4 linked regions of the Homo sapiens genome follow. The protein of the gene in region 1 interacts with the protein of each later gene in a pairwise test. Each region holds a gene or a part of one and is shown in the gene's direction. Other genes may lie near its edges.

Region 1 (6,895 bases):
GGCAAATGAAAAGAAAAAGAAATTATCAACTCCAGGAAAAACAGAAAGTTGCATATGAATAGAACTATAATCACAATGCTCTACCTGGTTTAACAGTAAACATTATTTCAATAAAGACAATATAGGATATGAATTAAACATTGAGATATAATTTTGTGGGGAAAATGAAGAGAGGAGAAAAAGGGGAGTGTAAACAATGAAAATCTTCATCTATCATTATGAGAAGACAATAAATAATGTCAAAAATTGGTGAGTTGTAAATAAAATCAAGGCATTTTATTTAAAAATGATAAAGTAAATCCCCCCCCCAAAAAATATCTACAACAGTTTTATGTTATTACCTCTAGAAAGCATCACAAGGTTGGAGGAAGGTGGAAGAACAAGGAGTTATTGTTTCTTGGGTTAAGCTTTTTAGCATCATTTGAATTTTCAAATTATTTTCCTGTGATATTTGCGTAAACAGTTAGATGTATTTTCAAAAAATAAGTGTATTCTTTACAAAAGTTCAAAGCCTTAGACGTGTAATTTGTGTTCTTTTAACGTTGATTTGACAATAAAACACTGAGCTCTATTAATTTGCTGTCTTTATTAACTTATCCCAGTTTTTTGGGCCCCTATCAGGCCACAGATAAATTCTTGGGAGTCACAGTTTTGCATGTTTGTATTATTTTCAATTATACTTGAAAATGCATATGCCTGTTTTGGATCTGGGTAGCCACTGTGTAAGTGTCATTTTGATACCTCCACTATCATGTGTGTATCTATTCAAGTTAGGGCCAATTAGCACTACTTTAATAATTGCAGGACAATGAGAAAGAATAGGGCTTTCATCTATTCAGGCTGCTATAACAAAATAACATAAACTGAGTGACTAATAAACAATGGAATTTTTTTTTTTTTGAGACAGAGTCTTGCTCTGTCGCCCAGGCTGGAGTGCAGTGGCACAATCTCGGCTCACTGCAACCTCTGTCTCCTGGGTTCAAATGATTCTCCTGCCCCAGCCTCCCCAGTAGCTGGGATTACAAGCATGCGCCACCACATCCAGCTAATTTCTGTATTTTAGTAGAGATGGAGTTTCACCATGATGGCCAGGCTGATCTTGAACTCCTGACCTCAAGTGATCCACCTGCCTTGGCCTCCCAACGTGCTGGTATTACAGCCGTGAGCCAGCGTGCCGGGCCAACAATGGAAATTTATTTCTCATAGTTCTGTAGGCTGGAAAGTCTAAGATCAAGGTGCAGGCAAATTCTGTGTCTGGTGACTTCCTCGTACAAAGCCTTCTTCTCACTGCACCCTCACATGGCAGAGGGGTAAGGGGTTTCTTTCAGACCTTTTTTATGAGAACACTAATCCCATTCATAAAAGCTCTACCCTCATAATCTAATCACTTCCCAAAGGCCCCACCTCCTCATACCATCACCTGGGGGTTTATGATTTCAACACATGAATTTTGGGGGGACACAAACATTCAGACCATAGCAAGCAGTAAATGATGCAGCCGTATCAAATGAGAGCCCCATGAAATCATAGCAGGCCATATGAATAAAAACTATGTAATAATTTGAATGAATCAAGTGTTGAGGAAATTCCCAAACCACATTGTAGAAGAGTACCAGAAACTCAAAAAACCCAGCAGTCAATAGAGTATTCATGTTGCAAGCAGCAATTTAAGTTCAGCAAAACAATATCTGTCACATAAAAGTAGTGTTATTAATTTGAGTCGCATTTATTGATTTTGTAGGCTTTAAAATGTATACATTTTAAAATTTATGTAACTACTGTAAGCATAAGGAATTTATCCTATTTTCATTTTAGTACATGTAGGTTCAAATAATAATATAATCCTTCAAATAATTTCCACATTATTTAAATTATTCTGTTAAGTGAGTCTATACATTATTTAAATTTGAAAAGCACTGACTTGTTTATATTTACTAAGAGATGTGATCGGGTCAGTTTGCTACAATCCAGGATGGAATGCCACCCAATTTGTGGCACTCACCAAGTATTCATTAATTTAGAAGAAAGTGCTTTTCTCTTTCATCAATTTTAATTCACTAACTTAATTATCAAATAATATAGTGAACAGCTTCATTGTCTTCAACACTGGAATTTCTTTATCCTGACTTCTGCTTGTTGGGTGCACTCATCTATATATAACTTATGCCTCCCCTAAACTCAGAGAATAAGTAGGACAAAACTGGGGGTGGGATGTTTTCATTTCCTTTTGTTGCCATAACATCTTATCACAAATTTAGCAGCTTAAAAATAACATAAGTTTGCTATTTTATATTTCTGGAGGTCGGAAATCCAAAACGAATTTCTTTGATCTAAGATCAATGTCGCAGGATTGCATCCCTCTGGAGGCTCTAGAGTATAATCTGTTTCCTTGCCTTTCCCAGCTTCTAGAAGCTTCCTGACCTATGCTGAGGTCATCAAATCTCCTTTTCTGCCTCCAATCCTACTGCCTTCCTCCCTCATTTATAAAGACCCTTATGAGGCTGAGTGCAATGGCTCACGCTTATAATCCCAGCACTTTGGGAGGCCGAGGTGGGCGGATCATGAGGTCAGGAGTTCGAGACCAGCCTAGCCAACACAGCGAAACCCCGTCTCTACTAAAAATACAAAAATTAGCTGGATGTGGTGGCAGGCGCCTGTAATCCCAGCTACTTGGGAGGCTGAGGGAGGAGAATCGCTTGAACCCGGGAGGTTGCAGTGAGCTGAGATTGCACCACTGCACTCCAGCCTGAGTGACAGAGCGAGACTCTGTCTCAATAAATAAATAAATAAATACCCTTATGATTACATTGAACCCACCCAGTAGTTCAAGATAACCTCCCTACCTCAGGATCCTTCCTCACATCTGCAAAGTCTCTTTTGTCATGTAAAGAAACATATTCACAGGTTCCAGGGAGTAGGACGTGGAGATCTTTTGGGTGGCATTATTCTGCCTCCCACAAGGGATGCCACTATGCCTAGCCTGTCCCCAGAGCAGAAACCGATGGAGGAATCTGCTTTGGAAGTATGGGAACACAAGCTCCAGAAAGAAAAATAAAAGGCAAATGGATGTAAATTAATAGACAGGCATTTTATGGTGAATCAGAAGGAATTTCTTTTTCTGAGGAGGATCAAGGAGCATGTTGAGGATTTACAAAATGTGGGAAAGCCACCAACTAAGGAAGAAAAAGCAGACTGCTTCCCTGAGGGTTTGTTTGAGATGGGAAGAGTTACCTGGGAAAGACTGTGCTCCAAGGTCACACCAATTACCACGTGCATGAAGATTATACTCAGTTCAGCTCCAAAATCACCATCTACATGTTTATTTCAAACTTTGCAAACAAACCAAACAATGACATCAGAATTAAAATGGTTCCACCACCTCCCTGTTCTTATGCCATTGTTTTTCTTTTTCCATGATTCCTGTAAGAAACCTGACACTAATTAAGCTAGTGCAAGAAGAAGAAGAAAAAGAAGATGAATCTTCCACCACACTGGAGATAACCCAAGAAGTAAGAAAAACTGATCTCTACCCAAAAAGGACAACAATGGTGAAAGACTGCATTTGCAACGGGGGTAATATACTCAGAGTTTAAATTTCCGAAAGGACAAACAAAACATGGAGAGTCTAATGAGATCTTCCAGCTGCTTCTCTCTGCTAAGGTATTTCCCCTGGCAACAGCTAGGGAAGCTTGGGTGTATTTTCCCCTTGCTGTGTCATATGATGTTCCTTTCCCTACCCCCACCTCCTCCAGACTGCTGCCTCCATCAGTGCCTGTGGCGTGTGTGTGTGTGTGTGTGTGTGCGCGCGCGTGCGTGCACGTGTGTATGTGTGTGTGTGTGTATTGGGTTTCTCTCTCCCTTGTAAGAACACAGCCAGCCCGCCCTCTCCTGCTGTTGCTGCAGCTCTGACTTGCTTTTTCCTGCCTCCTTCCTCTCCTCTCTCTTCTTGCTTAGCTTCTTGCCTTCTGGTAAGTATGACAAACACTCCCCCAAGCCCTGTGAGAAGGTATAGGGTGCGGTTTGTGGTGTTCGAAACTTGCAACTTTGAGATTGCCAGTGAACTGTTGGAGAACTTTTCATTGTTGTATTTATAAATAAAATGTGTTGCTTAGGGAGGGATGTGTCTGTGATAGTCATCTGGAATAGCCAACACAAGTGAAAAGTTCTCTCCCTGGGGAGGGGAAAATAAGGCAATAAAGTTTATATAAGATAAAAGTTAGAAATAATTTCTTTGCCACATAATATAAAATGGATGATTGAAAAGTAACAAAGTTCTCTGACTTTGTTTTTTTCCCTCTTGTTAACTTGTCTTGAGGCTACTTTTGGGAATTGAATTGTCCTGGGCTTTATAATGACTGTTCTGTTTTAAAGTAAATGTGGAACAGGAGTTTAAAGAATAGCCATGGAATTAAGAATTTAAAAAATCAATGATTGTGGCATCTCATGAAGAATAAATCAAATACAAACAGCCACTTGCATTTAGACTAACCGAAGTAAAACTCCTATGGACAGCTTATCTTAAATTAATTATTTTGAAGTTCATTTTACTTGAGATTTTATTTCATCCTAAGATAGTCTCCCCGACTTTAAAACCCATGTATGGATTTAAGCCACTAAATGTTTACTGTTTTCAATTTGACTGAAAAACGATTCTCTTGATTTTCAAGGATGAAGTGCTAAACGGCATGACTCATTTTAGAATAGCTTAAAATAACTTCTGGCTGGACAGCAGGTGCCGTGTGTCTTTCTCCGTGTTCAGGGGAGGCCTAAGTTATATATAGATGAGTGCAATCAACAAGTGAGGTCAGGAAAAGAAATCCCAGTGATGAAAATAATGAAACTGCTGCATTATTTGATAATCAAGTTGGTGAATTCAAACCAGTGAAAGAAAAAAAGTACTTCCTCTAAGTTATGAGTGTTTGGTGAGCATCACAAGTCAGTGGCAACATCTGTGTGTTGAATTTTCTGTTCTTGTTGGTGTCTGAGCATTCAATTGACATCTACTGCCCTGAGAACAGGAAAAGGAAGCTGTGCAGTTGTAGAACAGTATGCTTTTGTTTTCACTTTCATGTTACCACAACAGCAAAACCTGTGAATTATGAGGATCTTGCCACATTTTTATGCTGCTATTTAGCAGCATCACTGTTAAATATTATTTACAAATAAAATGCACCATAACTTAAAGGCCTAAACCAAATCTATTGCAACTCTAGAAGTGGTAATAGTCAGAAACCCTGGAATCTCTGACTCAGTACCATCTCTCACCCTTTCCTAAGGGCCCTTATTATTGCTGAATTATTTCTCGAGTTGGTCTCCTCCTTGTTTATGAAACATTGCTACTTCTTAAAAATCATTAAGTTTTTCTAGAGCTTCCTGACTTAGAAGAGAAAGTTGTAATCTGTTTTTCTCTTTTAAAAAATTGGTTTATATATTGGAATAAAAGAGTATTATAGAAATTTAAGGAATTGTTGTTATAAGTATCATCATGCTTTTGTTTTGTTTAGTTTTTGAGACGAAGTCTTGCTCTGTCACCCAGGCTGGAGTGCAGTGGCACGATCTTGGCTCACTACAGCCTCCGCCTCCCAAGTTCAAGCAATTCTCATACCTCAGCCTCCCAAGTAGCTGGGACTACCGGTGCCCGCCACCACACCTGGCTAATTTTTGTATTTTTAGTAGAGACAGGGTTTCACCATGTTGGCCAGGCTGGTCTCCTGGCCTCAAGGATCCACCCGCCTCGGCTTCCTAAAGTGCTGGGATTACAGACATGAGCCACAGCACCTGGCCCGTGTTTCCATACTACTTTGTCTATTTATTTATACCTTCCCTCATTCCCTGTCTTAATCTAAAAATGATGCCAGTTTAAGCCTCAAAAAAAGCATTCGTGTTGCTTATCTGAAAAAGAAAATGCCAGAAAAGTGAGAAATGTCTCCTCTATCCAGTGTAATAATGCATTTACATCAAAATATTCACACTAAGCAAAATATTGATTTATGGATCAAATAGAGCTTAGAGATGTTATTCTTATGAGTTATTTAAATAAATTCAATGGCTCTTCTATTAAATATTTTAACTTTGAAAGAAAACTAATACCACTTTATATTTAAACATTTTAAATATATACAGTCATGTACCCCCAGTGATTGTTAATCTACATAGAATTATACAGGAAAATGGTAACACAAACTGACTAGTGTAAGCAAAATGACAAATATGGCCACAAAGAAAAATAGCATGAATTACTTTCTTAATGTGAATAATAAGGAATGCTACTGAAAACTGAAGATCAAAACCAAAAATATGCCAGCAGTGTGACTTGATTTGGAAAAACAACTTTCCACTGTCCCTACTTTAATAATTGTAATGCAGCAGGACAAGCCGCAGACAAAACCCTTCAGACACCCAGTTAAAGAAGGAAGCAGTTTAATCGGCCGGGAGCGTCAGCAAGACTCCTGTCTCAAGAGCCGAGCTCCCTGAGTGAGCATTTCTTGTCCCTTTTAAGGGCTCACAACTCTAAGTGCGTGCACGTGAGAGGGTTGTGATTGATTGAGCAAGCAGGGGGTACGTGACTGGGGGCTGCATGCACCGGTAATTAGATCGAAACAAAACAGGATAGGGATTTTCACAGTGCTTTTCTATACAATGTCTGTAATCTATAGATAACATAACCTATTAGGTCAGGGGTCAATTTTTAACTACCAGGCTCAGGGCGCGGCACCAGGCTGTCTGCCTGTGGATTTCATGTCTGCGTTTTAGTTTTTACTTCTTCTTTGGAGGCAGAAATTGGGCATAAGACGATATGAGGGGTGGTCTCCTCCCTTAGTAACATCAATGGTTTGTGAAAGGACATTGCCTTTCTCTACGTTAGAGACTATAATTAGTTGGTATTCACTTGGGG
Region 2 (7,904 bases), on another chromosome or scaffold:
TCAGCACAGAACTGGAAATCCTAATCAGAGCAACAGGTAAAAGAAAGAAAAGGCATCCAAATGAAAAGGAAGAAGTTAAATTGTCTCGGTTTGTAGAGGACATGATCTTGTATGTATAGAAAACTCCTAAAGATTCCATCCAAAAGCTGTTCGAACTGATAAATGAATTCAGTAAAACTGCAGGATACAAAAACCAACATACAAAAATCAGTAACATTTCTATACACTAATAATGAGCTATGTGAAAAAGAAATTTTAAAAATCCCATTCACAATAGCTACAAAAAATAATAAAATACTTAGGAATAAATGTAAGCAATGAGGTGAAAGATCTGAACACGCAAAACTACAAAATACCCATGACAGAAACTGAAGAAGACACAAACGAATGGAACAATATCTCATGTTCATAGATTGAAGGAATTAAAATTATTAAAATGTTCATCCCACTCAAAGCAACCTACATATTCAACGCAATCCCTACCAAAATTCCAACAACACTTTCACATTAACAGAAAAAATAATCCTAAAATTCATATGGAACCACAAAAGGTCTGAATAGCTAAAACATTTTTGAACAAAACAGAAAAACAAAAACAAAGCTGTAGGCATCATAGCATCAGTAGGACAGTAACACCCAAGGTGTGGAGTAATCCCAGGATTGAGAAATGTTTCCAGTACAAATGTAGGTCAATTTTAACTTGCCTCTGGCAAATGGCAACCACAGTTGTAGCTCAAAGTGTCCAGTGCAATTCTATCACATCTTGGTCACTCGCTAGCTTGGCAGAATCAACTATTCGCTGCATTTTGAGTAGGGGTTGTGAGTTGTGTTTTTCATTTGTGTTTTGTGTGGGTATCAAGGGTAGCATGGGGGTTAGTATAGGTCCTTGCCACCCAGAGGTGATTTATAGACCATTAGTACCTGTATCAACTCCGAGGATATGAATATGTTACAAATTCAGAATCTTGAGAATCGCCTCAACCCTACCATATTAGAATCTGTATTTAAATAAAATCTCCATATACACCTTAAAGTTGGAGAAGCTTTAAGTTCCTTAGAACTGTTAATTTTAAAGAGAGAGATGATAGCTATGTAGTGGGCAGAGTAGGATCAGTCCCTAATTTCTACTTGAAATATCCTTGTCTCAGATTCTCCATTAATTTAGAGATACCATTTCATCCCTTATGAGTAAAGGCTACAACATCTTTTGTACCCTGAACTCACTTGATCAGCAGCCTTAATTATTTCAACTATGGCCCAGACCTAGGAACTAAAAAAAAAAAAAAAAAAACAAAAAAAAAAACAGGCTGGGCACGGTGGCTCATGCCTGTAATCCCAGCACTTTGGAAGGCCGAGGTGGGAGGATCACCTGAGGTCAGGAGTTCAAGACCAGCCTGACCAACATGAAGAAACCCCATTTCTACTAAAAATACAAAATTAGACAGGCGTGGTGGCGCATACCTGTAATCCCAGCTACTCGGGAGGCAGAAGCAGGAGAATCGCTTGAACCCAGGAGGTGGAGGTCGCAGTGAGCCAAGATCACACCATTGCATTCCAGCCTGGGCAACAAGAGGGAAACTCTGTCTCAAAAAACAAACAAACAAACAAAACACTCCAGGCATGGATGCCTTAATAGCTACATATATATCACAGATTCTGTGTTTTACACATTAGCAAGATCTCAGACCCTTATGATTCCAATAAACTTAGGGCTATGGATCCCTGACCACGAAGGATTGGAAGCAGCAAAGTAGGGCAAAGGGAAAGAAGTAAAATATGGAGTTGGGGTGAAGTTTACAATGAGAATTGATGGTAGAAAGAATAGCTTTGACATTTTCGTAGTTATTTAGATTTATAAATCTGTGCACACGTCAAAAACAGTCACTCAGATCTTAGAGAAATTGTACTTAACCCTGCCTACGTGTTAGCATCACCTACTTTTCTCAAGCCTCAATCTCGGAGATTCTGATGTAATTGGTTTGGAGTGGGATCCAGGCGCAGGTGTTTCATTAAAGCTTCCCAGGTGATTCTTAGTGGTTTAGGCTCAGTCATCATAGGGCCCAAAGGCCTAAACACCTAAGTAGCCTCTAAATAGGCTCTTTCCAGCTTGCTATAATCATTGACAATCAAGGACCCCAGGGTTGGTGAGGATGACCTTGGTTACTAGGATTTTCTTTTAAGAGGAAAACACTCTATATATTAGAGGTGATTTTGGCAGAAAATAAGATAGCCTGGAAGTAAATGATACACAAACACCGATATAAGTCCTGTGTCATAGTTGGAGAAATCTGGAGGGCACTGGTGTGTTGAATCAGACACCCCCTATCTCTCCCTCTTGACCCTCCCTCCATATAGCCCAACATTTACCATGCCCGTGAATCACCTGGGGGTCTTGTTCCAATACAGATTCTGACTCAGTAGTCTTGGGGGAGGCTCCAGATTCTGTCATTCTTACGAGCTCCAGGTGATGCTACTGTAGCTGGTCCAGGGACAACACTTTGAGTCAAGGTCATCCTGATGGCCTTGACTACTCCTCAACCCCTTCTTTGGAACCCAAACAAGAAGAATGGCTCCCATGAATTCCACTGGGGTCCTTGATCTACAGCCACTGTACCAAAAACTGTAGGCATTCCTGAACTAACATCATATATTTTGTCCATCTCTTTTCTTAACTATTCCCTCCTCCCACTAGGCAATGTTATAGGAGGATTGGGGCCTACTGAGTTAGAAACAAGCTTAGAGAGCAGGTATTTTGCCCCATTCATTACAAAACTATGGCACTGAGGCCAAGTTGCAAAGGATTTGTCAAGTTCACAGGTGATCGTGGTAAAGGCAAAACTAGATCTAAATCAGGACATGAACGCATCCATTAAGGATTCTGTCAAAATGATTGCTTCCTGTAGCTTTCTGTGTGAAACATCCATTTGCTTATCCTCAGGGAAATCAGACTAACAAAGACTTGGAAAGGAACATAAAATTCTAAAGCTAGGCTTATGGCCTTTATAACCCTTAGATGGGGCAGATAACATGCCACGGAGGCTCAGAGACAGCTCTGAGACTATGCAATAGCTACTGTTTCCCCTCTTGTGGAATGTTCACTTAAAAAAGCTCAAGGGCTCTATAAGTTGCCCAATGAACTCCACAGACATCCTTAATTCATTTTCATTTATTGGAACCCTCTCTCAAATAATTTTCTAAATCTCACGCAATAATGATGTATATTCTTGCTCAATATTAAGAAGCCCTCATGCAAAACTGAAGAAATAAATTGTTCTTACAAAAGAAGGAAAAAGGAATTATATTCTCAGAACATTCTGCTTACCCAGACACACAGATCTGATTCTTGCTCCATTGTTTGTGGCATTCTGGATCCTAGGGCCATTGATGAGGCTGGGTCAGTGGCCACACTGGCTCCTGGGTACCCCTTCCCTGGCCACAAAAGTCCATCCCAGCAGCACTATTTAAACTGGACTTATTTCTCACTTCACAGCTCTGGCCTGGGCTGAGACCTCCCCAACAGAGCTTATTAGCGAGCTTGTCATCTTGCTCTGTGGCTATCTAGGTCTGGAGTCAAGAGCCATTCACAGGAAAATCAGCATGAAACCTTTAAGTTTGCATATTAAATATTAACACCACTAAGGGCTACAGTGGAAAAGAGGTTTGCTGAGCTCAAGGGCCCTCACTCCACCCCCAACTTCCCTTGGCTTTTCTCTTCTATGTTGTGTTCCTGGTAAATCCCATTATGTCTCGACTACCTTAGGCCCTCTCAGCCCCTTCTTGGGAATTAGGCTCTCTGGATAGGCAAAGAGGCAGATACCCAGCTGCCAGGTGAATCAGATGTCCTCATCAGATCTCTTAATTTCCACTTTGGTGATATTTCAAAGGATCACAAATTATGTTCTTAGTGCCTGGTCAGAGAACTGGGAAAGAGCTGGAAGATGAGACACCAAACTCCATCCCATGGTGATGTTTGAACCAGGCTGGAGCTGGTTTCACATGTTTTTCATTGTGCATGACTTTCTTAATTGCCTTAGTGGGAATGCGTTACTGCAAAATAAAGTGAAATTGTTTTCCTTATTGCTTGTAATTTACAGAGGGGTGGTTTTGATCATATAAACCAGGCACTTTTCAAATCCATTGATCTTAGGGTGGAAGGAGGGATTTCTTTTTAAGTATTCATTTCGAACTATGCTTTCACTAGTAAACTCAAAGCCCAAGGGCAAAAACCCATGATTCTCCATTTTGTAATAGCTATTAGATGTCCACAGCACATCAGACCTGTGGAAAACGCATGCTTTGTGTATGGAAGAGGGAGAGGGAGCGTCAGGAGTTGTCCTTTGCCAAAAAACGTACTCTGACACTCAAAGGCACAGGCTGGTGGAGATCCAGGGAACCCGGGAAAGCCCAGGCCTAACTCAGGCCCGCGCGGGTCTCTTCTGATCCCATAAGATGAGGAGTGGGTCCTGGCTCTGGGCATCCTGGTGTCGACTGTGAGTTCCCAGCAGAGGCCCAGAGTCCCGGTCCGGCAGCCGAGGGAAGCGGGGGGGTCTTCCAGAAGAAGAAAGGGCCAAGGTCACCCCGGTGCCTCTCCAGCAGCAGCAGAGGGCGGCGGTCGGTGTCGCTGCTGGCCGGGGCCTCGAGGAAGGCGCGGGCCAGCTGGGGCCGGGTCTGCGTTCCCAGGAGCTGCCACCGTTCCAGGGAGCAAGTCAGGCCGGGACGTAGCGCCTGCGCGGGACCCTCACTTGCCACCAAGACCCCCACAAACCCCGCCCCATCCTGCCTTACGCCCCGCCCCAAGGTCGTTCTCCCGACCCGGGGTCCCGCCCCAAGGCCGTCCTCCCGCCCCGCCGCTTGGTGGCGGCCGCATGCTGCCCGGATATAAAGGGTCGGCCCCACATCCCAGGGACCAGCGAGCGGCCTTGAGAGGCTCTGGCTCTTGCTTCTTAGGCGGCCCGAGGACGCCATGGCCGAGTGCCCGACACTCGGGGAGGCAGTCACCGACCACCCGGACCGCCTGTGGGCCTGGGAGAAGTTCGTGTATTTGGACGAGAAGCAGCACGCCTGGCTGCCCTTAACCATCGAGGTACAGCCAGCTTTGGAGCGGATGGCGAGGCAGCAGGGGCAGCCCCTGGGAGCTTGGGATGCCCTAGGAAGGGCGAGGACTCAAGGAGCACTCACTATGGGGCAGGGAGGATCCCCACAGATGAAGCCACTTTGAGCCGGGCTCTGGAGGATGAATAGGAGTTCTCCAGGCAGGGAAGAAGGGTGGGAAAACCGCAAAGGAATGTCGGTCAAAGGGGTGGACCCAGTGCCTGTGGAGTGTGACTATAATGTTGACTACAGCAGGCATTTTCTGGGCTTCGGGGTCCTAATCCTTAAAAATGGGTATCTCTAAGTGACTCATCCATATGGCCGATTATCGGAATCATCTCAGGTGGGTCCCAGAAATCTGTATTTTTAAAAAGAACCCTCAACAGTTTAGGGTCAACCAGGCATAGCAAACACTGGCCTAGAGTGTGAAGTATTTTCCACTACCTCTGGGCTTTATTTAGAAAACAAATTTAACAAGTGATGTCGTAGTATAAGCGCCGGTATTGAATCAATATTGACTTTTTTAATGTGTGATGCCTTAAGATGGGTCCTTAATCCATGTTAAGTTTTTGTTAAAGAAATAGATAAGTCTTTTACAAGTATTTGGATTTACTCAATGAAAAAGAGTCAAAAAATGTTCAAACTCTCTCCAAACATACACTGAAGAAAGCATAAAAATTAAAAAATATATTAGAACACGTATGTCCAGTAGCAATCAAAAATTATTGAGTGTTGACTGTGTCTCTACAGATGGGAAACTGAGGCACAAAAATGTACATTTGTCCGAGGTAAGATTGCTAGTAGGTAATGGGGTTGGAATTCTAGGCTCTTAACCACCACAAAATCTGCATTTTTATTGGCATTTCAATTTTTTAAATATGTTTTTACTTTAAAAATCAAGTTAAATACTTACTTTTTTAAAATCAAAATTTGAAGAAATAATTTGAAGATTCAGTGGATTTCTTTTTTTAAATCTCTGAGAAATCTCTTCTTCAACGTGACACCAAAACCACGAACCAGACAGTTTTTCATAAAATCATGATACATGCTCCACAAAAAATAACCCACTAGCAAACTGTGGGACAGATTTTGCCTCACATCATTGAAAAGGCCAGTATTCTTTTTCTCTCTTTCTTTCTTTGTTGTTTTTTTTTTTTCCTGTAGATACAGGGTCTCGCTCTGTGACCCAGGCTGGTCTTAAACTCCTGGCCTCAAGCGATCCTCCTGCCTCTGCCTTCCAAAGCACTGGAATTACAAGTGTGAGCCGCTGCAACCCGCCAGAAAAAAGTGTGCCTTTCATGGCCCTGTCTGGGTGGCTAGACACGTGTGTGTGCTGGTGGTCCTGGCCCAGCCAGAGTCCCTGAGAGGAGCATGCATGGCCTAAGGAAGTGAGCTTCAGGGAACAGTGATGACCATCATTTCACACTCGGACCCCTGCCCAGATGGGTGGATGGCTGGCAGGAGGGATTCCGGTTTTCTGCGCCTGGAGAAGCCCTGGCAAGCGGAACCTGAAAGTATGCCCTGTCCTTTTCTTCTCCTCAGATAAAGGATAGGTTACAGTTACGGGTGCTCTTGCGTCGGGAAGACGTCGTCCTGGGGAGGCCTATGACCCCCACCCAGATAGGCCCAAGCCTGCTGCCTATCATGTGGCAGCTCTACCCTGATGGACGATACCGATCCTCAGACTCCAGTTTCTGGCGCTTAGTGTACCACATCAAGGTGAGTGTCTTTCTCCCAGAGGTCCATCGGGTGATCTTGGGTTTGCCCTCCTCCATGTCTGGCCTTAGTGGTTTATCTTCCCTCCATCCCAGTCCCAAAAGCATTAAAAAATGGGGGAAATGTACAAGTGCAGATTTCTAAAGGACTTTACCAGAGAGAAGATAGATCCTCTGAGGTCTCTAACAGAACCCTACCTCCACTTCCTCCCAGCCACCAGCTAGCCGCAGGAAGACATCTCTGGTGGGCAGTCACAGGCTGAAGGCTGGTGGGAGGAGGGGCAGTCTCCAAGAGCCCCTGAAATCCTCACACCTGGGTTCCTACCTGCTGTTTCCAGCTAGGGGAAGGCGCAGGAGTGAGGAATGGAGGGAGTGGAGGGCTCTGGCCGATCAATGCCTTCTCTCTCTCTCTGCCTCTCAGATTGACGGCGTGGAGGACATGCTTCTCGAGCTGCTGCCAGATGACTGATGTATGGTGAGCTCCACTGGAGCCTGACCCCTCTTAGTCCACAGTGGCTGTATCAGAAAGAAAGACCACCCCTTCTCCATGAAGGCAGTGCTAACCCCTCCCCGACTGCTGCCATCTGAGGGTCCCTAGGGATGGGAGAGGCTTCCTGGAGGCACTCATGTCTCCCTTACCACTTCGGGAGCCAAGGGCTTTGTAGGCAGCCCCCTTTATCGCAGCTGCTCATATCTATAAAGTACTTCACAAGTTTCAGCTGGCACTTTCATTTACCATTGCTTTTTTTTTTTTTTGAGATGAGTCTGGCTCTGTGGCCCAGGCTAGAGTGTAGTGGTGCAATCTCAGCTCACTGCAAGCTCTGCCTCCCGGGTTCACACCATTCTCCTGCCTCAGCCCTCGGAGTAGCTGGGACTACAGGCGCCCGCCACCACACCTGGCTAATTTTTTTTTTTTTTTTTTTTTTTTAGTAGAGACGGGGTTTCACCGTGTTAGCCAGGATGGTCTCGATCTCCTGACCTCATGATCTGCCCGCCTCGGCCTCCCAAAGTGCTGGGATTACAGGCATGAGCCACCACGTCCGGCCTTACCATTGCTTTATTAAATAAGCACTGGTGCTTGATTATATCAGCTGAGCC
Region 3 (7,554 bases), on another chromosome or scaffold:
CAATGCTCCTGGCCACCTGTTCATGTTTCCTCTATTACGTCTAGGTAATAAAGGAATTCCTCTCAGATGATTCTAATTTCAAGGATGAAGTTCCTACATTTAAAAACACGAAACACAAAGATAAAACATATGCTACTTAGTAAAAACAAACATTAAAGAATGCTCATATAATTTTATATGAAAGACTCCATACTTAAAATCGTAGCAGTGGGCTTTTAACCTGACCATAATAAGTGGCAAATTTCTCAAAAGAATGAGAAGGGTTGCGAAAAATTTAGAAAAGTGAAAAAAAAAAAAAGCTACATAAACACACTAGTACATCTGGCTCTTGAGCTAACGCGAAGGCGGGGGGGAATCATTTTTGAAGGCTATGATCGGGCTGTGTATTCCCTAAAGGGCATGTGATGTAATACTGGAGAGCCGCCTAAAGGAAAGGGATAGGGTGACAAAGGGGGTGCGGATGCCAGAAAGAGGGATGAGCCTGCGGGTGTCAGGGAGGAGGTGGATCACTAGCGAGTGCAGGGGTGTATCAAAAGATGATTTCGGGGAGTGGGGAAACGGCCCGACAAGCGAAGGTACAGGAGCGAGATGAGGGTGGCGCAGAGAGGAGGCACGAAGGCTCCCGGGGAAACGGTGTGACATCTGGCGTGCGGAGCCGGCAGGGGGCAGACCAGGCAGGATGTCACGTGGAGTAGGCGCTACGGGAGCCGAGAGGGTTGCGTACGGACAGAGGGGGGTCTTTCCCACCGCCTGAAAGACTGTTACTCACAGGAGTCGCGGACTCTTCTTGCCCTGAACTGGAGACGGGGACTTCGCGGCCTGGGGCTGCTGCCCGGGGACGTCGGGAGGCCTGGCGCTGGGGCTGCTCCTCCGCCGGCGGGGATACTCGGCCTTCCTCCGGCGGGACACAGCTGCGGCGGCGGCGGCCGCAGCGGCCCGGCCTCGGTCCCGACCTCCCCTCAGCACGCGGCTGCTAGTGGTCCCTGCAGGCGCCGCCGCGACCGCCTCAGGGGGCCGTTGTTGGGGCTCCTCCGGAGCCGCCTTGGCCGCCTCTCCCCCTTCCTGGTCCTGCTGCTCCGGGGGTCTCGGCTCTTCCGTCTCCCCCGGCATCGGGGCTTGTCCGTCCCCCACCCCCTAGTCCTAGGCGGCGGAGGCGGAGGCGGCGGCCTCGGCGCTGCTCCCCCCGCCCCCTCGCCTCCCGAAGCCTGCGGCTCACTCTCACCCTGCGCTCCTCTTTCCCCCCTCCCCTCCGCCCGGCTCCGAGGGCGCCCCCCCCACCCCCTGCCACTCAAGGTCCGCTACCGCTGGCGGCGCGCGCGCGCGCGCCACAGACGCTCAGCGGGCCAATCGGAAAAGAGGACAAGCCTCCTCACCCCGCCCCTCGCAGTCTTACACGCAGCGGCGCCCCAGGTTCCCTCCCCCACCCCTTCCTTCAGCCAATCAGGAAACGGCTAAAAGGGGAGCGCGCGAGGTTTCCTTCCCCGCGCACCCGTTCTCACCGTTAAACGGCTGTGTCTCGCGACAATCCCAAAGTGACCTTTTTCCCCCCTCCAGACTTCAACGCGCGCTAGGGGCAGTGCGAGGGGCAGGTCTCGCGAGGGAGGCGGGTGAGAAGAAATCGCACCTCTTTCCCCGCCTCACGCAAACCCTAGACTGGCTGCGCGCGCACCTGCCTCCCTGAGGAGCCACTGATACCACAAGGGCTCTTTCTATTCTTCTTTAGGCCGCAGAAGTAGCCTGGGCGTTCTTCCGCCTCCACCCTACCCCACTTTCCTGTCTTTGGCCTTTCTGTCCCCAGCGCCGCCAGATCTTGCGCGGAGAAGGGGGTAGTATTTTGAGCTGTCGCTTCTCCTTTAAGAAAAAAAGCCCCGTCGGTTGCCGGATGAAAGTCTCTGAAAAAATGGCGGCGGCAAAACGGAGGCGGGGTTGTGGGGGCAACGAGGGCCCGCCTCTTGGCGCATGCGCACCGTTAACTTAACCAAGGGCATTCTGGGAGATGAAGTCTTATTTCGCCTAGGCTTTAGGAAAAATAGATGGGAAACCAGAGGTGGAGAGGATGCCGGGAGGTTCTAACTGAGTCACGACGGGAAAGGTAGTTTACTTTCCGCAGTCTAGAGTTTACCTTTTTTTCGGGAGGCAGTGTTTCCGGGTTAGGTCGCGACGCGTGCCGTACATCCGGGCTCAAGCGTCGAGCCAATTGCTGGTCTGATGGGAGGGTTTTTCCTACTTTTTCTTACTTTTTATCTGGGCGTTGGCGTACCTTTCTCGGGGTGTCTGCGTAACTGCCCAGACTTGCCTTGGTTTGGTCAGATGACACCTCCTCTGGGACTGGCTAGCCAGCGTTCATGTCTACATTATTGATCTCGTCTTCCGGTGTGTGAGTCACTCACCTGTGAGCTCCTAGAGGTCAGCGACTAAATCTGGTTCCATGGGGTCCTTGGGCCCTCGGAGCCCTAGCACAAGGCCCACTACTCAGTTGGCTCTTAATCAAATCTGTGAAACGAATTATAAAGTTGCTTTTCTACTAGACCTTGTTGGGACACCAAGGAGCCGGCGTCGGTTGCTTAACTTGGATGCGGTGCCTGACCTAGAGGGAGGCGAAAGGGTTGTGAGCGTGACATGACTGGTGACCTACACCGAGAAGCTGAAGGGTCTCTTAAGCTCTGCGGCCGGAAGCCATCTGCTTCTGCGGTTTATACAATAGCAACTTTATCAGAGGTTACTTTTCTGCACGCTAGCGTATGACATTAATTTGTCTTCCTGATTCATCAAAGGGAATTTCCGTTGCAGTTGGTGATGCAGTGGGCCTCTCCCATTTCTTTTTTCTTTTCATCCATTACAATCAAGGAACGATTTGCAAGAACATCCTTTACCCCTGGAAAATAAGGCATCCAGGGCTAAAAGTCCCAAAAGAAAGAAGCTGGAAACAAGATCTGGGGATCCAATTTTAAATTTCACATTAATCATTCAGTTAAACTGTAGACAAGTGCTGAAGTACATTTTTCCTTCCAGTACTTTGACTCAGATACCACTTCATATTAGACAAATGTTTTATATTCTCTACTGAGTATTTTCCATTTTCATAGGGCTAATGTCATTTTCAGTTGTAATAATCGATTGGCATAGTGTCAATGGAAATTTTTTAAGATTGAGTTTGTAGTGAGCAGACTTTTGGAAGGAACAGTGCTGACATCCAATGGATGCTCAAAGTAATACAGAGGAGGAATCTCCTTTCAAAAAAAAATGTACAGACAGTGGAATGGAGAATGAATTATTCCCTAAAAAAAAAAAGCCACTGTGGGCTGGATGTGGTAGCTCACCCCCGGAATCCCAGCGCTTTTGGATGCCAAAGTGGGAGGATCCCTTGAGCCCAGAACTTCCAGACCAGCCTGGGCAACATAGGGAGACCACCCTCTACATAAAAAATAAAAATAAAGCTTTTAAGCTAACCTGGTGGCGTGATGGGATGCACCTCTGGTCCCAGCTACTCCAGAAGCTGAGAAGGGCAAATCGCTTGAGTTCAGGAGTTCGAGTTGGAGGTTACACTGAACTATGATAGTACCTTTGCACGCCAGCCTGGGTGACAGAGAGCTTGTCTTAAAAAAAGTAAAGAAGGCTACGGTGTTGTAGAGGAAAGATCCCAGACTTTGCAATTATAGTAAGTAGCAAAGCTACCAATTAATTATCTTAGCAAGTTGCTATTACATGAACCTATTTCACCATTGGTAAAAAGGGGGAAAAAATCTATTTCACAGGGCCATAATTATAGTTCCTTACGTATTGCTTTTTTATAGTAGGCCTTTTGTAAATGTTTAATTCAAGGTGAATAAATCACAGTGGTAAAAAAGGTGAAGAGTTAACCTCAGTGTTACTTTCCAAAGAAATTGCTATAAGGCAGTGTATCTAGGCAGGGATTATGCTTAATTGAGATGCACACAGTTTAACATCTGGTGTCAAACCTGGCTTCCTTCTTTGTGACCACCCTATAGATGTTTGCTTTTGGGACCACTGAGTAAACCAGGCCCTGAGAATCCAAGCATGAATCCACTTCTGCCCTACTTTTAAGGATTTACGTTCCATGCAGGAAAGCAGATAACCATAATTTCTGAATAAATAAGACAACAAAATGAAATGGATGCTGGTCAACTCTGATGCAAATTTTAAGAAGGAGACTATGCCTCTGTGTCTCCCAGCTTCACAGAAAAAAAAAAAAGAAAAAAGAAAGATGCTCAGAGTGGGGTACCTACACTTGGAAAAAACGCAAGTATAAGTCTGCCATTCCCATGAATCCAAGATGAATCCTGGCACAGAGTAGGTCCTCAAATTTTGCAAAATTAATTTTGAATCTTTATCACCCTGGCCAATGCACTGCCATAATGCAAATCTTACTATCTACCTTTCTATGTCAGTCACATTTTTAAAACTGTGTAACCTATGAAAAAAAAAAAAAAGCTCACCAAATCAAAAGAGAGGAAGTGCTAAGCAAATACAGGAACCAAAAAGGTTTATAGAGGCTGCCTTATGCTGTCTCATCCAGTTCCTTTGCGGTCCTCTTCTTCAGCACATGCCAAAGCTGTTCCTCACGGCCTGTGAGACAAGAGCATCTTGGATGTAGGACAATGGAAGAGTTAGGTGAGTGAGGAGCCTGAGGAGAAACTCTGAGGGAGTGAAGACTTGGCTGCCATCTCCTTGTGTGGTGGGGTATACTTCTGGCTAGACTGAGGGTAGTAATGGAAGATTTTATTTTCACTTCTTTCCTGTCCTCAGCCCTGCCAAGAGTGAAGCATGAGGAACTATGATTGTTTTGGGGAACTATGGGTTCACTGTTTGCAGTGGCAAAATAGATGGAGAGTTTGGTGCTAACCGCGGAATAAACTCTTGGCAAATACTTTTGGACTGGATTGTTACTGCAGTTGTTGTCTTGTTATGGGCGTTTTGCCCTTTGGAGGTCACTGGAGATCAAGGGTGGCCACATAGCGAGACAATGCAGAGATATGATTTGAGGAGGAAAAGAAAGAGCAAAAAGGGAATTGGGGTGTTATGAGGAAGAAAAGACGGACTAGAAGTATAAGAATGAGGGATCTGTAGAGGTTGGAAAAAGGCCAGAGTGGTTTCATTTGTTCCATGTTTTAGTATTAAATCAAGAAGGCATAGCACTCTAACTCTAGTGATTTTGTTGCTAAGCTTTTTATTCAGAAGAATTCTGAAGGAAGAGATTACTAGGGCCTGAAAATATGACACCTCCTTCCACTCTAAGACAATTAAAACCAGCAGTGGAACTATTAACCATATTAACCAGAGAAATCCTGGATTTCAAACCTTTGGAGTAATGTAAGGTTTGTCATTCTTGGGACTCATTCCATAGCCTTTGCCAACATCTGTTGCCAGCATCTTAACTAACACTGAGTCACTAAACTATACCCAATTTCCAAACTGTATTAATTCCACAGTGTCCTGGTTTGGGGTGTGTTTGGGGATAGGGTATGTCAAAAGTGCAAAAAACAACAACAAAAAATATCTTGCACATTGTTACATTGTCTTAAAAAAAATGGCGTGTGATTTCAAAGCTGGAGAAACAGAGGAAAAGTAAAGGGCAAATTACCAGGAGGCAAGAGATGTTAATGAAGAGAAAAAGGTAGTGTTTAATAAATATCAAACTGCTTTGGAGGTAAAGTCTATTTTGATATTGGGCCAGACTCTTTTTTGGACTTGGGGTAGAATTCTATTTCTTATCCTACGTGAGTGCTGGGAGAATGTGAATTTCTGCTTGAGTTCTAGTAGTGCTAGGGCCTTTTTTCTTTTTCTCTTTCTTTTTTTTGGGGGGGATGGAGGGGACACCGAAAGGCTTTCATGGCAAATAATTCAAAAGGAAACTAATACTTATTTAGTAAATCAAGCAAAAACTAGACATTTTTACATATGTTAATCATTTTAGTGTCTGCAGCAACCCTCTGAAATAGGTGTTATCCACTTCTTTTTCAGATGAGAAAACTAAGAAAAACAAAATAACTTTTTCAATGTCACTGTCGGGAACACCTGACACCAAAACTAAGCAACAAGGTGCTCTCCTATTTTAGAAGTTTATTGGTTCTGGTGTCTGTCCAATGAAGTAACCCAGATTTAACAGAAACTTATATTGTTTTGCATCTCCTGAGCAGGCTAAATGTTAGGTAAATCTTGTCTGGAAATACAGAAAGTACCAAGTAGCCTGGAAGCTAATATTTGTGCAGATTATCCAGTTGGCTACGTCTCCACAGGCTGTTGATGGCTACACTTCAACAGTTTCTTCAAATTGTCATCAGCCCAGTAACTACCCTTGAGACTTGGTGTGGATCTTTCTTCCTGCTGGCAGAGAAATGGCATCGAGGACAGGTTGGCTCAAGTGAGCAAATATTTCCTGTCTGCAGTGGTGCCTCAGAGGCTAGCAGCTTGTATACACCCAGAAGGTTTTACCTAAACCCTCATTACGTAGGCATTAGGCATGATAGATAAAGAGGAACCAGGAGCAGATTCTGCCTCCGAATGAAATCCATGCAACCCTCAGAGACTCCCAAGAGACCTCACTTTACTCCTTTCATGTTAATATTGATATTATTTCATCTCCACAGTAAAAGACTACAGAGAAGAATTATGGAGTCTTCAGTCTAGTCCCCACTTCCCCCGCCCCCACTCTCCAGGAATCCCATATTTGTCATACTGAAATTAGTCATCTTCAAATTACAAAATCTGGCAAAAGGCATAATAACCTCACAGTGTTGGTGATATGCACACTCATATGAAACAGGAAGAGAAAAGCCTATAACTCATGACCCAGAAAGAAGGGTTTTGATAACTTTGGTTAGCTGGTGCTTCTGAGGGCAACTTCCTACTCTTTGTGGTATGGTTTCTTCTCTCTTATAATCTTTATTGTAAATGGCTTTTTATTTTGAGCTCAGGAGGATCTTTGGCTTCTAGTTAGAGCAAAGCTTAGAAAATAGAAAAGAAAGGGGCTCTAGCATAATTGAAAGATGTAGAATAAAAATTCAAAATTCTCAAATTTGGTGTGGGGTCTGGCTAATAAAAATCTGAGGCAAAAAGTTTTCTTTCTTTTTCTACCTTAGTTTTCTTTTCTTTTTCTTTCTTTTCTTTTCTTTTTTTTTTTTTTTGAGACGGAGTTTTGCTCTTGTTGCCCAGGCTGGAGTGCAATGGCACGGTCTCGGCTCACCGCAACCTCTGCTTCCCAGGTTCAAGCGTTTCGCCTGCCTCAGCCTTCCTGAGTAGCTGGGATTGCAGACATGTGCCGCCATGCCTGGCTAATTTTGTGTTTTTAGTAGAGACGGGTTTTCTCCATGTTGGTCAGGCTGGTCTCGAACTCCCAACCTCAGGCGATCCGCCCGCCTCGGCCTCTCAAAGTGCTGGGATTTACAGGCATGAGCCACCATGCCCGGCCTATTTGTCCTTCTTTTTAAAAAACTTCTATTATAAAGAAATTTAAGTATGCAAAAGTAGAGAAAATAGTTTAATGAATTCTGATATACCCATCAACCAGTTGAAACAATCAGTTCTTCATCAGTC
Region 4 (3,508 bases), on another chromosome or scaffold:
CTCTCAGGACAAAATGATTAAGGTTAAAAAACTTACCTTATCATAGTACCTTGATACCGAGGATGCTCGATATGCCCTTTCTTAATTGATAAATAGTAAAGACCCTATAGGTCAGCTATTGGGCTGACTTAGGGGTTCATATTCGATCTTCAGTAAGAGTGCAGTACACTAAGAGGTTCAAACTGGATTGCATCCCCAGATTCACATATGAACAAGTCTATATCCTTGAAAAAACCAGATCTTAGGGATCCAACAGGTTGAAACTAACCCAGGGCCAAGCTGAACTTTCAGGGCAGTTCTCAAAATAACTGAGCTTTGTGGTCGTTCCCGCGCACATACCCCACAATTGGAATGATACAGAGAGGATCAGCATGGCCCCTGCGCAAGGATGACACACAAATTCATGAAGCAGTCCGTATTTTAATTTTAAAAAAAATGAGTTTCACAGGCTGAGCGTGTGTGGCCAGAGCCGGACTAGAACCAGATCTTCTGGGGCAAAGGGGCGAGGGGAATGAATGACATTTATCCAACACCTAGTTGTTTTTTCCCTTTAGCAGGAAGTCATTATGCAACTTACACATATTCATCAGATTTCCTCTGACTTACCCGGACATGTACATGGGAATGATGTGCACTGCCAAGAAATGTGGGATTAGGTTTCAGCCTCCAGCTATTATCTTAATCTATGAGAGTGAAATCAAGGGGAAAATTCGCCAGCGCATTATGCCAGTTCGAAACTTTTCAAAGTTTTCAGGTACCTCATGTCTTATCTTGCCTCCTGTCTTAAATATTCTCTAAATACAGGTTCACATCATGACTCTGTCAGGGACTGGATGTGTGACACTGGATGAATTACTTACTCTCAGTGAGCTTCAGTTTCCTAATCTATAAAAGGGAATTGTAGTGTTTTTTTCCAATCTGATAATTAATAATCCTTTTGGGATTGCTGCCTAGGTTAAATGATATAGCATTATTCAATAATATTAATTCCCTTCTCTCATTCCAAATGTTTTTTATTTGTAGTCTTAATATTTTATTAATACCACTACTGCTATCTAAAAGCTATAATATCACTTTTCTTCTCAGACATATTCTCCAGTTGAAAGTGTTTAATATCTCTACAAAGTGATTTTTAAGTTAAAGAAGTCAAAACTGTATCTGTCCTTCTCCCACCACACTGAAAGCTCAATATAAAGGAATGGTTCTACAAAGTAATTCATTCCAATCAAGCCATTTAGCTACTTGACTATAATGGAGATAATATTTTCAGGGTTCAGAGTTTTTGTTCTGTTTTGGCTGTTGCAGTAGTTTATGGCGTATATGATGTACGTGGTACGTATGTGGTATATAGTTTTCTTCTCTCTCCCAGATTGCACCAGAGCTGCTGAACAATTAAAGAATAATCCGCGACACAAGAGTTACCTAGAACAAGTATCCCTGAGGCAGCTAGAGAAGCTATTCAGTTTTTTACGAGGTTACTTGTCGGGGCAGAGTCTGGCAGAAACAATGGAACAAATTCAACGGGAAACAACCATTGATCCTGAGGAAGACCTGAACAAACTAGATGACAAGGAGCTTGCCAAAAGAAAGAGCATCATGGATGAACTTTTTGAGAAAAATCAGAAGAAGAAGGATGATCCAAATTTTGTTTATGACATTGAGGTTGAATTTCCACAGGACGATCAACTGCAGTCCTGTGGCTGGGACACAGAGTCAGCTGATGAGTTCTGATACCAAACACTCAAAACATGCATTGGGCTAGCAGAATATCCATGTTTATTACCAGACTGGTTCTGGAAGAAGCTGTAAAGAATACTAAATATGTTGGGTTATAGGGGATTGACCATGTTACTTTTCAAAACCAGGACATTTAAAGCATCTACTATGTAGGTGCATGAGGAGTATGGGAAAAACAGAATAAAGGAATCTGCCTTTAAGGAGCTTACAATCATGCCGGGTGCGGTGGCTCACGCCTGTAATCCCAGCACTTTGGGAGGCTGAGGCGGGTGGATCACCTAAGGTCAGGAGTTCGAGACCAGCCTAGCCAACATGGTGAAACCTCGCCTCTACTAAAAATACAAAAATTAGCCAGGCGTGGTGGCGGGTGCCTGTAATCCCGGCTACTCAGGAGGCTGAGGCAGGAGATTCGCTTGAACCTGGGAGGCTGAGGTTGCAGTGAGCCGAGATCGCGCCATTGTACTCCAGCCTGGGCGATGAGCAAAACTCCATCTCAAAAAAAAAAAAAAAAAAAAGCTTACAATCTGACTGGAAGATGTCAAAACCTGTGAAAAGCTAATTAGCAGTATTAAGCAACACAAACATTAGTGCCAAATGCATGATAAAGGCTAAAGAAGGCCAGAGCATATATTACTGTAGAGTAGAATAGTAAGGGAAGACTTTGTCCTTTAGTAAAGAGATAGGAGGTGGCCTGGCCCTTGAAATAGTAGTGTTTAGGTAGATGCTTGTGTAGGATTCCTGATAAGAGCAACTGAAAAGAAGGAGAGGGGAAGTAGTAAAGGGACAAGAAACAATTTTTTTTTTGAGGAACCATAAGCAAATTATAGTTTGACAAGACAAGATTGGGGGACATATATGGTTACCAGGGAATTACCTCTTATGTGTTATATCTTTATATTATTTATCTCTGGAAAAGAGTACCCTGCAAAATTCCCTACAGCTGCAAGCAGATGTCACTTGATGGACAGAGGGGGAATTCTGCCCCTCCGGTATCGGGAAATACATACTAAAGACATTGCGAAACGCTGAACCTCTTCCCATAAATAAAAGGTTTGTTTGTAAAATGGGAAATCCACCCATAATAAATGAACAATAGGCACTGCCAGTTTAGGCCTGTTCATGAATGGATCTGCAAGACAGCATCTTCGTTTAACAACATTATCTGTGATTTGATACATTTATCCTTATTACAATATTGTTTAGTTGGTAGAAATTCTATGTTTTCTACAAGGAAATTGATGTTTATTAAATAAAACTGAAAATAATTACTCAGTGTTTCTACCTGTTCACTTCCACTCTCCTTACCATTAAGCACTTCATTAAAAGGGAGCTCATTCTTGTAGTGATATCACCAGAGTTTTGAAATAGTCAGATCTCATACATACAGTAGCCAAAGGGAGCCAAATAATTTTCTGAATTAGAGATCTTTCCATATCTACATAGTATTCCTTTATTCTTTATTGTATAGATATAGGTAGTTTATTTTTTATTTGAGACAGGGTCTCACTCTGTCACCCAGGCTGGAGTGCAGTGGCATGATCACAGCTCACCAAAGCCTCAACCTCCTGGGCTCAAGTGAGCCTCCCCTCTCAGCCTCCCAAGTAGCTGTGAGTACAGGTGCCCACCACCACACCTGGCTAATTTTTGTATTTTTTGTAGAGACAGGGTTTCACCATGTTGCCTAGGCTTGTCTGGAACTCCTGGGCTCAAGTGATCCACCCACCTCAGCCTACCAAAGTGCTAGGATTACAGATGTGAGCCACTGTGCCTG

Evidence for each region.
Region 2: the proteins of TXLNB (region 1) and TCL1A interact in binary tests that used the Homo sapiens proteins (3 or more experiments, as listed by UniProt).
Region 3: the proteins of TXLNB (region 1) and LPXN interact in binary tests that used the Homo sapiens proteins (3 or more experiments, as listed by UniProt).
Region 4: the proteins of TXLNB (region 1) and CEP19 interact in binary tests that used the Homo sapiens proteins (3 or more experiments, as listed by UniProt).

Annotation. Positions count from the first base shown.
Region 1 is NC_000006.12:139,288,994-139,295,888, reverse strand, and holds the start of TXLNB (beta-taxilin), read left to right. Parts: upstream 1-3,890; 5' UTR 3,891-3,968; intron 3,969-6,895. UniProt on the Homo sapiens protein: Promotes motor nerve regeneration. May be involved in intracellular vesicle traffic.
Region 2 is NC_000014.9:95,711,126-95,719,029, reverse strand, and holds the start of TCL1A (T-cell leukemia/lymphoma protein 1A), read left to right. Parts: upstream 1-4,904; 5' UTR 4,905-4,963; coding exon 4,964-5,083; intron 5,084-6,255; exon of another isoform or gene 6,256-6,479; intron 6,480-6,633; coding exon 6,634-6,810; intron 6,811-7,227; coding exon 7,228-7,275; 3' UTR 7,276-7,281; intron 7,282-7,904. UniProt on the Homo sapiens protein: Enhances the phosphorylation and activation of AKT1, AKT2 and AKT3. Promotes nuclear translocation of AKT1. Enhances cell proliferation, stabilizes mitochondrial membrane potential and promotes cell survival.
Region 3 is NC_000011.10:58,572,838-58,580,391, reverse strand, and holds the start of LPXN (leupaxin), read left to right. Parts: upstream 1-4,535; 5' UTR 4,536-4,619; coding exon 4,620-4,632; intron 4,633-7,554. Other genes in the region: E3 ubiquitin-protein ligase ZFP91, read right to left, coding at 770-1,110. UniProt on the Homo sapiens protein: Transcriptional coactivator for androgen receptor (AR) and serum response factor (SRF). Contributes to the regulation of cell adhesion, spreading and cell migration and acts as a negative regulator in integrin-mediated cell adhesion events.
Region 4 is NC_000003.12:196,705,774-196,709,281, reverse strand, and holds the end of CEP19 (centrosomal protein of 19 kDa), read left to right. Parts: intron 1-554; 5' UTR 555-624; coding exon 625-754; intron 755-1,369; coding exon 1,370-1,731; 3' UTR 1,732-3,005; downstream 3,006-3,508. UniProt on the Homo sapiens protein: Required for ciliation. Recruits the RABL2B GTPase to the ciliary base to initiate ciliation.